Regions from separate parts of the Homo sapiens genome. Here region 1 is linked to region 2. The links come from fine-mapping of genetic effects on gene expression. Tissue or cell type: whole blood. Region 2 holds a variant in brackets; the other region holds the start of a gene. All regions are shown on one strand. Distances are from middle to middle.

Region 1 (5,903 bases), 45 kb after region 2:
GGCATTAGGTCTGCAAATGCTCACCCCAATCACTGTAAATCCTGTGTACAGTGATTGGGGCGTAGAACCTGGGTGGTGCAGCACTAGACACACTTCGGTGAATTTGGGGCTTTTAGGCCAATTCAACTTTTTTCTCCAGATGCTGGAGAAAGCGAAGCCTAAGAGCTTCCTAGGGGAAAGGTGAGTATTTTCAGAAGAACCACTTCCACTAGATGCCCCAATTCCAGAGGTATTGAAAGCACCCTGGCCTGGGAGTCAGGAGGTCTGGGTTCAATGCCCAGCTCTTAACCATGATGAGAATCTAGTCTATGTTTCTTCCTCAGTTTCCCTATTGGTGAAATGAAGTGGTTGGATTACAGTGAATTCTCCACAAGTTTCCTTCCCGAATCTTTTTAGAACTTTCAGGCCAGGCCACTTCCGGGTTTCTGCCAACCTAGACTCCAGTGGGTCGGCTCTGGCCTTCACTGCTCCTTCTCCCTCCTGAGGACTGCCCATCCATCCACAGCCCCACCACCTGCTCTTTCGTTCCTTCCCAGCTTCTCCCCTCTTTAGCCCCTCTCCTTGGTGGAGACTTCACCCTCTAAGTTTCCTGATAAGCCACAATCTTGGTGTCTTACTTGCTTTCATCAAACAGCCAAAGGGATTCTATGGGCCATTTGCCCAAGCCTCCATTTTACAGATGTAAGGACCGAGGCCAGAGAAGGGAGGGATTTCCTCAAGATTACCTTGTGAGAGGGAGGTGCGGTCTTCCTGTAACCCGAGTCAGCCTTATCTTGTCCAGGACTAAATTTTTCGGGCGCCTAACTTTAAAAAAATAAAGTACTTTTTTGGCCTAATATAAGGTTGGTACAAAAGTAATTGTGGTTCTCGCCATTACATTCAATGATGAGATCCACAATTACTTTTTTCTTTTTTTTTTTTTGAGACAGAGTCTAGCTCTGTCGCCAGGCTGGAGTTCAGTGGCGCAATGTCGGCTCACTGCAACCTCTGCCTCTCGGGTTCAAGCAATTCTCCTGCCTCAGCCTCCCGAATAGCTAGGATTACAGGCACGTGCTGCCATGCCCAGCTAATTTTTGTATTTTTAGTAGAGACGGGGTTTCACCATGTTGGCCAGGAGGGTTTCAATCTCCTGACCTCGTGATCCACCCACCTAGGCCTCCCAAAGTGTTGGGATTACAGGTGTGAGCCACTGCACCCAGCCCACAATTACTTTTGCACCAATACATAGAATTATGTTTCCCAATTGAGAGGACATTCGAGATGTTCAAGGAAATTAAGGTCATTGGAGGTAATCCAAGGGCCTCCAATACCCTAATTGACCTGGTGAGGAGTGGGAGTGGAGGGGGTCCCTTCCCAATTCTCTTTTCATCAATGCTCTTGATGAAGAGTTTGTTGCTAATGTGTCTTTAACACCTTTCTAGCCTTTGGTAACCTTCCTTTCAAAGAGAAAGTGGGACCTCAGCTTCAACACCTCCTCAGGCAGCAGTATCTTGTTAGACTGTATTATTATTATTGTGGTTAAAGATACATTGTTAGAATTTAATAACACTTATTTTCATTGTATTTATTTTGATGGTTACCTTCTATTTATAGTAATGTGATGCTGGCTTTCCATTTATGGTAATAATTTAACATATCTTTTTAAAAACAAGCTCACTTAAGTAAATTAAAAAAGAATGAAAAAATAAGAGTTGATTTAGAGAAGCCTATTCAGCAGATGTCCTTAGCTAATGCACAGATAGGGCCAGGTCCTCCATGGAGGCTGGAGAGAGGCTGAGGTCCAGGAAACTGACTTGGAACTGGAGTCAGGGACCGAGCTGGTTGTCTAAGTTGTGCAGCGGGTCTGCACTCTCTTCCCCTGCGCCTGCCCCGTTCTGCCAAGCCCCAGACCCTTAGAGACTCTATCCCTCTCTCTGCCTGTCTCTGGTCTCCACTTCCCCAGCTCCAGCACCCTTGCTGTGGGCTTCCCGTTTTTCCTCTTTAAATGTATGTGGCGCCTGGTGTCCAAGGAGGCTCACACGGGGCCTCTCCCAGCAGCATTCCACAAGTGCAGGGCCTGTGGGGTGTTCAGCCTCCACCCTCCATTCTGTTTTGGCAGCTGAAGGGTGAATGTGGAGCCCTTCTCCTTGTCCTCCTCTTATAGAAATTCCACCATTAGGGACTTCCTCCCCTTGGGTGAAGCTTTGCTCACTCTGGGTCCCTTTGAAACCGCGGATCCAGGGATTTTTCTTCCAGCCACGTGCCTACTCTAAGAGTCCCGGTGACGCGGTGAAGTTCTTTAAAGGACCAGACATCCCTGAAGTCCTTACAGGGACATCCCCTTACAGGGACGAATCCATTTCCTGGAATGTGGGCAAGGAAAGGCAGCCACTTCCTGCCTCTCAAAACTCTGGCTGGTGGCTGGGTGCAGTGGCTACGTCTGTCATCTCAGCACTTTGGGAGACTGAGGTGGGAGGATCACTTGAGGCCAGGAATTGGAGACCAGCCTGGGCAACATGGTAAGAGTCCAGCTCTACAAAACACACACGCACACACACACACACACACACACACACACACACACACACACCAAAAACAACAGAAAACATTAGCCAGGCATGATGGCACATGCCTCTGGTCCCAGCTACTCGAGGGGGCTGAGTTGGAAGGATTGGATTGCTTGAGCCCAGGAGGTCGAGCCTACAGTAAGCCGTGCAGGAGGTCGGGCTACAGTGAGCTGTGCTTGTTGACCAGGCTTGTCCAGCCTGGTCAGCAGAGCGAGACCTTGTCTCAAAAACAAAACAAAAACAAAACAAGAAGATCCCCCTCCCCCCAAACTCTGCCCAGTGGCCTGACTACCAACATCCATATACAAGACAGGAGTAGGGTCAACTCCTTCCTATCAGTCACCCCTTAGTGAGAATCAGCTGGCCAAGGGGCCTCCTGCAGAGCTGATGTGTGCTTGAATGCCTAGGGCCCACGGGGATGGGGTGTGGAAGCTTCAAGCTGGGACTCAAAACAGAGTTGCCAAGGGAAGAGGAGTGGGCGACCCGAGCCCCTGTCATCAGTACTTTCACTTGGGCTGTCAGTTTTGATCTGCTTGCTTGTCCGTTTTGTCTGGGGCAGGGTCGGGTAGTTGTTTAGAGGAGGCTCAGAGGTTAAAAGTCTCAGGCAAGTCATGTCAGGGGTTGGGAGCCAGTGCTGCTGTGGCAGCAGTACAGAGAAGAAAAGATAAGCTCCCCAGCCCCGCAAGAACCTCAGCCCTGAGGCCGGAGACACAGATCTGGCCCCTTGCAATCAAGTCATTTGCATCTGACCTGGGGTCAGGCCCCTCCATGCAGGAAGTCCCCTTTCTTATCTGCAAGTCAGAGGAGGGTGAGTTCCCCAGGCTTTCAACAGGTACTTCCCCCGGCAGCGGGAAGCCCAGGAGCCCGATCAGGACCGAGGATCTCACCCCAACCCCTGCGTTTGGGCCCCGGGGTCAGCTGAAAGTTCCCCTGGAATAAACACTTCGGGTCCAGCATGCCCCTCTCCCCACTCCCGCAACGATCTTCCGAATTCAGACGCAGAGAGGGCCCGCGAGCAGAGCGGGAGGTGGTCGGAGGCGGAGGAAGGGGAGATGGGCAGAGGGTGGGCCCAGGGACCCCCAGACAAGGCCTGGACGCGGGGTTGGAGGAGGAGGCGGAGGCTGGCGGGAGGCGAGGGGCAGCCCGCAGAGGAGACGCGCTTCTCGGCAGCAACGGCGTCTGGAGCCGGGAGGGGCGGAGGTTTGGGGAGGGGGAGGGAGGGCGGGGGAGGGGAGGGACGGACGGCGGCGGAGGTGGGGCCGGCGGGCTGGCGGGCGTGCAGCTGCCGCCGGCGTCGCGGGGCTCCAGGCTGCGGGGCGGACGTAGCGCCGAGCGATCCACCGCGGAGCCGCGCGAGGCCGCCCGAGCCCCAGCCCCGGCCCCGGCCCCAGCCCCGGCCCCGGCCCCGGCCCCGGCCCCGGCCCCGGTCCCGGCCCCGAGCCCCGAGCGAGCGCCGCCGCCTCGCGCTGCGGGTCCCCGGACGCGCCGCCACCGCCGGGAAGGCAGCCGGCGCCGGGCAAGTTGCGAGCGCGCCCCTCCGACCAGGAAAGTTTCCCCCCGGCCGCCGGCGGGATTTGGCGCGGGGTCCGGCAGCCGCCGCTGGAAGGTATGGGGCTCCGCACCTCCGTGCCCTCCGCACGCCGCCGCCGCGCCCCCGGGGACCTGGGGACCCCCCCGCGCGCCGCCCCGGGGGTGCTGCTGGACGCGGCGGGGAATTGGGGTGGAGTAGGGATCCCAGGACGGAAGCCCGGCAACCAAGTTCCACTCAAACTAGCACGCGGGGGCTGGGGGGCCGGGGACGGTCTCCACCCCGTGCCTGCCCGGAGTCCGCTGAGGGCCGGGGGCTGCGCCCAGGACAGGTGCAGAGCCGGTGGGCTCCCAGTGCTCCGGGTGGAGGAGTGGGGGCTTCTGGAGAACGGCGCGGGGTGGCAGGTGTGGTTACAAGGTTCGGGGTTTCGGCCAGGGCTGCGCCCGGAAAGGGGCTGCTCGCCACGCCACCCGGTAAGACAGTGAGGGACCAGGGACTGGGAGCGGCGATCGGGGCCGGGAGGGCTGTGGGGCCCGGCAGCTGCATGGAGGGCGGGCTGCCTTTGGGGTCCCTGGCAGCGGGGCGGGGCGGGGCGGAGGCGCCACTCGTTCCTCCAGGACCCCCCTTATTCCTTAGGTGTGTGCGGTTTGGGGAAGTGGAGACTCCATGGAGTGCTGGGTGGGTGGGAGGCTCGGGCACGTCCAGATTTAGGGGGCAGTGGGAGCCAGTTGGGACGGTGCTCGGCTCGGGTGGGATCGCGCCGGCTCCGGGTCCTGCTGGAGTGAGGTGACTGGGCTCCCGCCAGGGGGCGCACTGCCCCGGCCCTCGCCAGCAGGAAGCGCGTTCTGGCTCCTGCGAGGCAACCGCGCCGACATCCAGGACGCAGGGACCACAGACACCCAACTTACGCGGGGTCCCGCCCCGAGGAGCCCGCCCTACACTAGCCAGACGGGGGAGCGGGACCAAGAGTGAGGCGAAAGGTTCACAGTTATAACTGCGCCGTGGGCTGGAAAGGCTAGGAGTCAGGATGTGATTTTTCTCGGGAAGGCTGCCAGGGCAAATGGATGAGTAAGAAATTTACCCCCAGAAAAAGATGTAAGAAACTACAACTGCGAATTGGTGCAGAGAGAGTGGGTTGGGGAATTAACTTTTTGACGGTTTTTGGAGTTGCAGAAACCCAAACCCCAAAATGCATGCACCCTTTTTGTAAAAGTTGCACCTTTGTTTCCTGGATCTGGTCGAATCCCTGTCTGGTGAAGGCAGGATGGGGGTCTTGGGGTATCCTCTCTCTGGGCACAAGTAAACTGGGAGGCACAGGGCGGGCGGTGGGGGATGGGGCCTTAAAGACTTCAGCAGTCCAGGCAGAAGTGTTAAATTTCTCAGCAGTCAACGAGCCCTGGCCCCCACCCTCATCCCCTGGGTCTGTGGTCTCTAGGCCACATTCTTCTGGTCATTTCACAATTATTGGTGGAAATCTGCCCTGGGTCCCAGTTGTCTGGCCTCAGGGTCCCTGTATGTTGAGTCTGTGTGTCTGTGCCTTGGGAAGTCGACGGCTGCTGGCATCTGTGAGGACTGTCATCTTTGTCATGTGCGGGGCTAACATTGAAGGGACATTGGAGGGACTATTGCCTCATCTTTCTCTCCAGTTCCCTCCCTCCTCCCATCACCCCAAGTGAGTGCAAAGGAGCAAATCATAGATTGTGCCGTGGCCTCATTGTGGTTGGTAGAAGTTTTCATCTTTCTCTTAGCTGGTAACCTGTGCTCCTTGGGCAGCCCCCCTCCTGCTCCCATGTCCTTAATGTCCCTTACAAAGGTGGGGGAAATGGGGG
Region 2 (8,280 bases):
CTATAACTGTTATGGGCTGAGTTGGATCCTCTCAAAAAGCTATGGTTTTTTTGTTGTTGTTGTTTTGTTTTTTTGAGATGGAATCTTGCTCTGTTGCCAGGCTGGAGTGCAGTGGCGTAATCCCAGCTCACTGCAACCTCCACCTCCCGGGTTCAAGTGATTCCCCTGCCTCAGCCTCCTGAGGCAGGAGAGCTGAGATTACAGGCACACACCACCATGCCCAGCTAATTTTTGTATTTTTAGTAGAGATGGGGTTTCACCACGTTGGCCAGGATGGTCTCTATCTCTTGACCTTGTGATCCACCTGCCTTGGCCTCCCAAAGTGCTGGGATTACAGGTGTGAGCCACCACGCCTGGCCTCAAAGAGCTATGTTGAAGCCCTGATGCCCTGTCCCCAACAATGTGACTTTATTGAGAAATAGGGTCGATGTAATTAATTCAGATGAGGTCACACTGGATTAGAGGGGCCCTAAATCCAATATGACTAGAGTCCTTATATGAAGAGGAGGGAGATGCAGACACATGGAGAGAACAATGCGTGGAACATCAAAGGCAGAGATTAGGCTGTTGCAGCTAGAAGCCAAAGACCGCCAAGAGTTGCCAGGCACACCTAGAAGGTTAGGCTGGAGCTGTGGAGCAGCTTCTCCCACAGGGCCCCCAGAAGAAGCCAATGCTGCTACCAACAGGATTTCAGAATTCCAGCCTCCAGAACTATGAGAGATTACATTTCTCTTATTTTAAGCCATCCAGTACTTGTGGTACTTGGCCACAGCAGCCCTAGAAAATTAATAGAACTATTGGTATATGTTTTGTTTGTTTCTTTACATTCGTGTGTTTTCCCCAGATGTTCACTATGTGGCCTTCTCCACTCTGTGTTTCTGTTTATCCCATGAGTTGTTTTTCTTGTTTTCATAATGTCTTTCTTCTTTTTAAAAAAAATTTGAATAGTTTTGGGAGTGCAGGTGTTTTTTGGTTACCTGCGTAGATTCTTTAGTGGTGATTTCTGAGATTTTGGTGCACCTGTCACCCGAGCTGTGTACACTATACCCAATATGTAGTCATTTACCCCTCACCCTTCACCTCGAGTCCCCGGAGTCCATTATATCATTCTTTTTTTTTGGCAGGGGGGTGGTTTTGAGACGGAGTCGCCCAGCTGGAGTGCAGTGGCGCAATCTTGGCTTACTGCAACCTCCACCTTGTGGGTTCAAATGATTCTCCTGCCTCAGCCTCCTGAGCAGCTGGGATTACATGTGCGCACAACCACGCCCAGCTAATTTGTGTTTTTAGTAGAGATGGGGTTTCACCATATTGGCCAGGATGGTCTCAATCTCTTGACCTTGTGATCCATCTGCATCAGCCTCCCAAAGTTCTGGGATTACAGGTGTGAGCCACCGTGCCCAGCCACCATTATATCATTCTTATGCCTTTGCATCTCCGTAGCTTAGCTCCCACTTATAAGTAAGAACATATGGTATTTGGTTTTCCATTCCTGAGTTACTTCACTTAGAATAATGGCCTCCAGCGCCATCCAAGTTGCCGCAAAAGACATTATCCCATCCTTTTTTACGGCTGAGTAGTATTCCATGGTGTATATATACCACATTTTCTTTATCCGCTCGTTGATTGAATATCGTTGGTTCCATATTTTGGAACATGATTGGTTGAATATGATTAGTTCCATATTTTGGCAATTGTGAGCTGTGCTGCTATGCCCATATGCATGCAGGTGTCTTATTCGTATAATGACTTTCTTTTCCTTTGGGTAGATACCCAGCAATGGGATTGCTGGATGGAACGGTAGCTCTATTTTTAGTTCTCTAAGGTATTTCCACACTGTCTTCCATAGTGGTTGTACTAGTTTACATTCCCACTAGCAGAGTAAAAGTGTTCCATTTTCACCACATCCACATCAACATCTATTATTTTTTGACTTTTTAATTATGGCCATTCTTGCAGGAGTACTGTGGTAGCTCATTGTGGTGTTCATTTGCATTTCCCTGATAATTAGTGATGTTGGGCATTTTTTTTTCATATGTTTGTTGGCTGTTTGTATCCATACGTCTTTTTTTTTTTTTTTTTAATTGACGCAGAGTTTTGCTCTTGTCACCCAGGCTGGAGTGCAATAGTACGATCTCGGCTCACTACAACCTCCGCCTCCTGGGTTCAAGCGATTCTCCTCCTCAGCCTCCCGAGTAGCTGGGATTACAGGTGCCCACCACCACGCCCAGCTAATTTTTGTATTTTTAGTAGAAACAGGGTTTCGACATGTTGGCAAGGCTGATCTCGAACTCCTGACATCAAGTAATCTGCCCACCTTGGCCTCCCAAATTGTTGGGATTACAGGCATCAGCCACTGCACCCAGCCCATATGTCTTTTTAATTTCAAAGTGTCTTTATTTTTTGCTTCTATTTCTTTCCTGAGAGCTGGTGTCTTTCTGTCTGTTGCCTCATAAGTGCTTTATGGAAACCTTGACATCTTTTAGCTCATTAAGGAGGTTGGGTCGTGTGCAATCTCTTTGAGTACCTGGAGCACTGTGTGTCTGACTCTCCCTCTGTGTTTTTTGTTTGTTTAATAAGTCCTCTCCTGACGTCAGTTCTTGTGGTCTTTGCTTACGTTCCTTACCTCTATTGCCTTTTTGTTTTCTTTAGTCCCTTTTTGGTTCCTTTGTGATTATCATTCACCTTAGAACACAGCCAGTCATTTGTTGCAGGATGATATTGAAGAGAGAGGTATGCAACCCAGAAAGTGACTAGGGTTTGTTTCCAGCAGACATGCTCTTTCCAAATCCTTTATTGTTATTCCTTGGACATACATCACCTCCCACTTCAGCACTGAGGTTTGCCAAGACTCAGCAAAGGCCTTCAAACGTCCTCCTTCCTCTACTTCGCCCCAGCAGTCTCCTGGTGCTGGGAGGAGTTGGGTGCCAGGCAGGAGACATGGACGGTCAGCACGTCCCGTCTCGCCCCCCACTGTCCTGTGCTATTGAACTGGGTCTACAGAAGGATGTTTCTCATGACCCTGCAGCCTGAGCTGCCCCCAGACCCTATCATCCACAGAGGAGGCCTCCCAGTGGTGCTGTCTGTAGGGAGACTGGCTTCCTCCTCGTCTCTCTGTGCCCTCTTCATATTTGTGGCATTTAGCAGCATGTATACTTTCTGGTTTAATAAAAAATGGCACCTGTAATCTCAGCACTTTGGGAGGCCTAGGTGGGCAGATCACCTGAGTACAGGAGTTAGAGACCAGCCTGGCCAACATGGTGAAACCCCATCTCTACTAAAAATACAAAAATTAGCTGGGTGTGGTGGCAGGTACCTGTAGTCCCAGCTACTAGGGAGGCTGAGGCAGGAGAATCACTTGAACCCAGGAGGTAGAGATTGCAGTGAGCCAAGATCGTGCCATGGCACTCCAGCCTGGGTGACTTCTCTCAAAAAAAAAGAAAAAAAAAAAGGAGGTCTTGCTCTATTTTTTCCCCCCAAATTCGTTATTGTTTTCAGTGGGATTTGGGTGCAAGGAGCAGAGTAAACAGGCCTTCAGTAAACAGGCCCAAATGCATTCCTAAGTTTCCTCTTTTCTCTCAGGCCACCCTTTCTTGGCATCCCTCGCCCCCATCCCCCTCTCTTCAGCCATGAAATGCAGAAAGAGAGGAGGTACCTCCCTGAAGGCCATGCTAGTAAGGGGAGGAGTCAGGACACCCCGCCCAGGCACTCTGGCTCCCCAGCAAAAGGATGTG[G/A]GTTTCTCAGGTGTGGCTGTTTCCACTGGGCAGGGCCTGACCTGCAGCTCCTGAAAAGCCACTGTTCTGTCTTCCTGGCTTCTTCAAGTCAGAGTCCCAGAGATAATCACCGTGGGCTCCACGCAGCAGAGAGGGACTTGATCCAACACTCTTTTATCGGCCTCAGGGCCTGGGAGGGTTTCTCAGCATCCAAGAATCCTGGAGAGTGACTCCTGGAACATTACAGGGGCTGTGGTGAAAGACACACCAGTGTCGGAATATAAACCAGCCCCCAGGAAACTGCTTCTAGCCACGCCCTGCCTGAGAAGCCTCAGGGTTTCCTGGAGAGTCTGGGTGGTTTCACCCCACAGCCAAGGAATAGCTAACAGTGAGGACTGGAGAGACCCCACAGCCTGGGACCTGCATTCAAGCGCCGACTCCACCCTTGATTGACCTGCAGGGCACCTGGGGAAGCCACCACCCTCTCTTGCCTCTGTGTCTCCATCTGCCCCATGGGTGGGGTGGCCTGGAGGATCCCTGAGTCTCTGCTGGTGCTGGTGCTCCAGGATTCTGGGACCCCTCCAAGCTCCCTCCCAGGGGCTTGCCCTGCTCTTCACTCCCCCTATAATCCCACTTGGGTGGCTGGTTGGGGATCATTCCCTGAGACCTCTCCTGGATGTGTCTGAAAAGGCCCCTCAGGACCTGCAGCTAGGGCCAGCTGGGCAGCAATGTGGTGTTTGCTTCTGCAACCTTCAGGTCACCATAATGACTCACTCTTCCTTGCCAGTGGAGGAGAGCTTAGGGCTTCCCTTCCCCCAAGAAGCAACTTCATGGTCAGTGAACTTCACAGTGAATTCTAAGAAAGCCTCTCGGCCAAGGGCAGATTTATAGCCCTACATTTGCTCCTTCAGCTATTCCACAGCCAATCTCTTCTTATTCCAGAGGCATAACCTCAAGTCGGCCTAGGAACAGTCACTCGGAGACTAAGTTATGAGACCTAGTTGAGATCTGGGCTATGGTAGAAGGCTGGGATAACAAGTAGCCTTTGACTCTTGTCTCTAGCCACCAAGACCTTTGGTCTTCCTGTCAACCTCTTGCCTCCTTTCTTCTATCCTTACTTATGAAAGGAAAAGATGGACCCTTCATTCATCAATCCATCACTCACACATCCAACTATCCATTATGTACCCATTCACCTACCCACCTATCTATCCATCATCCATCCATCCACCCATTCATCCATCATCTATCCATCTATCCATTTATCCATCCATACATCCACCCATCCACCCATCCTTCCATCCTTCCATTTATCCATTCTAAGACTATCCATCCAGCCTCTATTAATCATCCATCCTTCTCCCTTTATCACCCATCCATATTCTCATCCTTTCACTCATTATCCATTCATCCATCATCTGTTCATTTAGTCATCCCTCCCTCACTCTGCACATCCCTTGTTCAAAAAGCCACAGGCTTAATAACAATAGCAATTATACTACAAACAGTTATAGCCACTATTTATGGAAAGCTTACTTTGCATCAGTCACTGTGCTAATTGCTTTCTTGCATTATCTCATCTCACCTACCACTATCCAAAGGGTCCCATGTCACAGATGAGGAAACTGTGATCAATAATCACCTAAATACTCCCTTAGAGATACAAATATGAAGAAGATAGTGTTTCTCTGACTTCCAGCACTCACCATGGAATGAAGGGGACTGACCAGTGAAAATACAGGGTATCCATGAAGTCCAGAAGCCTAGAAAGTCATAACAATGTATGTATATGTTACATATGAAAGATGTCTTTGACAATATTCTGTATGTTTGCCTGTTTCCAGATTTTATGGACACCCTGTACAGTAGAAATACAAAGTGACAGATGCTCAAACAGGACCAGATAAAACATCCTGTAGAAGCATTGCAAGAAGATAAGGGCACGGGGAGAGGAGAGGATGATGCTAGAGTAGCCAGGGAAGGCTTCACTGCAGAAGTAATATGTGAGCTGAGTGTGATTTTGCTAAGCAGAGAAGGGCTTTGCTGGTAGAAACCAGCAAGTAAAAGGGCATGGAGGCATGAATTGAAGACCTGATCAGAGAAATGCAAATCACTTTTAGTGTTTGCAATAAAGGAGTCATGGGAGAACCTGGGCAACATGAGACCTTCAAAAAAGGCCACCTTGAGCCCATGGGTGTCATTAGAATGACATGGGTATCAGAAATAAATGACCCAGTGCTGCCCAGTTGACATGCTATCTTTAGATGGGGAAAAATAACAGATTACTAAATAGCCTAGTCACTATTATCCGATTTTGTGCTGTAAAGTGCATACAGTCATCTTTCAGTATCCCTACAGGATTGGTTCCAGGATCCCCTGTGGATACCAAAATCCACAGATACTCAAGTCCCTTATATAAAATGGAGTCATATTTGCATATAACTTATGCACATCCTCCCATATACTTCAAATCATCTCTAGATTACTTATAATACTTAATACAATGTAAATGCTACATAAATAGTTGCTGTAGTATATTTTTAACTTGTATTATTTTTATTGTTGCATTTTTTGGTTTTAGTTTTTTGAATATTTATGACCCTCAGTTGGTTGCATCTGCACATGCAGAAACTGCAGATATGGAGGGCCAGTTGTATATGTCTGGAGTAAAAGGCTGGAAGGATATTCTAGGATGTCAGCAATGGAGATTTCTGGGTAGCGGGATTTGGGATAATTTTTATTTTCTCCCCATACTTTCTTCATCATGAGCATGGTGGAAGGAAAAAGGGCTTGGGCCCTGGGGGGCAGGGCATCTGGGTTGGATGTTCTATTGGCCACTGACTTGCAAGGAGGCCTTGGGCAAGTCCCTTCCCCTCTCTGGCTCTTGGCTTCCTCACCTGTAGGATGAGAACTGGCCCAGGGCTCCCTGAAGGTCCCATCTGGCCCAGCTACCCCAGGCTGGGGTTTCTCAGACTGCAATCTGGAAATGTGTCCTTAGGGGGTCCTTGCATTCTATGAAAAGTGTCCAAAAAATGGCCGGGCACAGTGACTCATGCCTGTAATCCCAGCACTTTGGGAGGCCAAGGCAGGCAAATCACTTGAGGCCAGCAGTTCGAGACCAGCCTGACCAACATGGTGAAAACCCATCCCCACTAAAAATACAAAAAAATTAGCCAGGCATAGTGGTGCACACCTGTAATCCCAGCTACTCGGGAGGCTGAGGCACGAGAATCACTTGAACCTGGGAGGCGGAGTTTGCAGTGAGCCAAGATTGTGCCACTGCACTCCAGCCTGGGCAACAGAACAAGACTCTGTCTCAACAAAAAAAAAAAAAAAAAAAGAAAAGAAAAAGAAAAAGAAAAAGAAAATTGTCCAAAAAATATTTGTGTGCTTTCATTTTCATAATGAAATCCGAGGAATGAGTTGTACATACACATAATGTACTAAAAGTTGTGTCTGGGACATAGTGAAGCCTCCATACATGTGAGCTATTTTTATTAAGAAAAATAAAAAAGCCATCTATCATTTATTCATCTCTGTTGCAGTGATAATTCGCAACAGAAAGACATTTTCCTGGGATAAGATTTTGGTTCTTGGGCCGTTGTTTCTCAAATTGGGACCTGTGGATCTCAGGGGCCCCCAAGACACTCTGTAAAAGGGGCCTGCTACTCAAGTTGAATAAGAAACAAGTCTGGGGCCCCTGAAGAGCCGGGAGTGTGGGCTCTGATACCTCTCGTCCCTGCTTTCATGTCTTCCCTTCAGCCGGGGTGACTTGCTTTTTCCTGAGGCCTTGGAAAGACGCGTACCTTTCCCAGGAAAATGAGTCCCTGAGGAGGCCTCCCCGCCTGCAGGCTCACTCCAGCACCTGTGTTCTGTAACATAGCCCTAATTGAAATCACATTAACATTATGATTCCATTACGGGGAACAAGAGGCTGGCTGCAGGAATGCGCCCCACGGGGCCTAATCAGCTGGACTGGATCATTTATAAAGGGCTGTGCATCTGCCTGGAGCTTCAGTGTTAAGTAAGGCAGACAGGGGCCTATTCATTATTAACAAGGCTTTATGTGTTTGGCCAGGCAGGAGTACAAAGCTGGCCGCAAGGGGAGTCTGAGGGAGGAGAGGCATTCAGGTGCTGACTGCAGGTGCCCCGTCTGCTGGTGCCCCGTCTGCCTTGTCGGTCAGTGGAGTCTGAGATGGAGCTGCTTCTGCCCAGGTGGAGGCGACTTCCTATCCCTAAACCTGGACTGTGGCCACTCCTCATGCTGAAGGGGGAGGCTGAGTAACTTGCCTGAAGTCCCTTAAGTAATACGTAGTGGAGTCAGAATTTGAACCCAGGCAAGCTGAGTTCAGAGCCCACATGCTTGGCCAACTTGCGGTCTACAGTCCACCCCTTGGCAGTTCATACCTCTCCTGAGATGTGCCCTGGTACCAATCAGTGCTCCCCAAACTCAAAAGCTTTGAGGTTGTGATGTAAAGGAAAGAGCACTGGAAATCAGAAAATGTGGTTGGAGGGCCAACTCCTCCATTCATTTATTACTCTAAGTACCAGCACTGTGCCAGGCACTGTG

Evidence for each region. PIP is the estimated chance that this variant, and not a neighbour inherited with it, causes the effect.
Region 1: it holds the start of TSPAN18, and the variant in region 2 is fine-mapped to the expression of TSPAN18 in whole blood (TOPMed, PIP above 0.99). The same link has a PIP of 0.9 or more in T cells and blood mononuclear cells.

What each region holds. Positions count from the first base shown.
Region 1 is chr11:44,723,136-44,729,038 of GRCh38, forward strand. It overlaps TSPAN18 (tetraspanin 18), which reads left to right and starts at 3,827. Exons shown (of 10, transcript NM_130783.5): 1 at 3,827-4,152. The region is part of intron 2 of TSPAN18-AS1 (TSPAN18 antisense RNA 1); the gene reads right to left. RefSeq lists enhancers at 2,355-3,215, 3,216-4,077, 3,444-3,613, 5,329-5,831, 5,832-5,903 and silencers at 3,804-3,953, 4,790-4,959.
Region 2 is chr11:44,677,418-44,685,697 of GRCh38, forward strand. No RefSeq gene overlaps it. Among named protein-coding and RNA genes, the nearest start is that of LINC02704, 20 kb to the right of the region's middle. The variant G/A (reference allele first, on the strand shown) is at 3,732.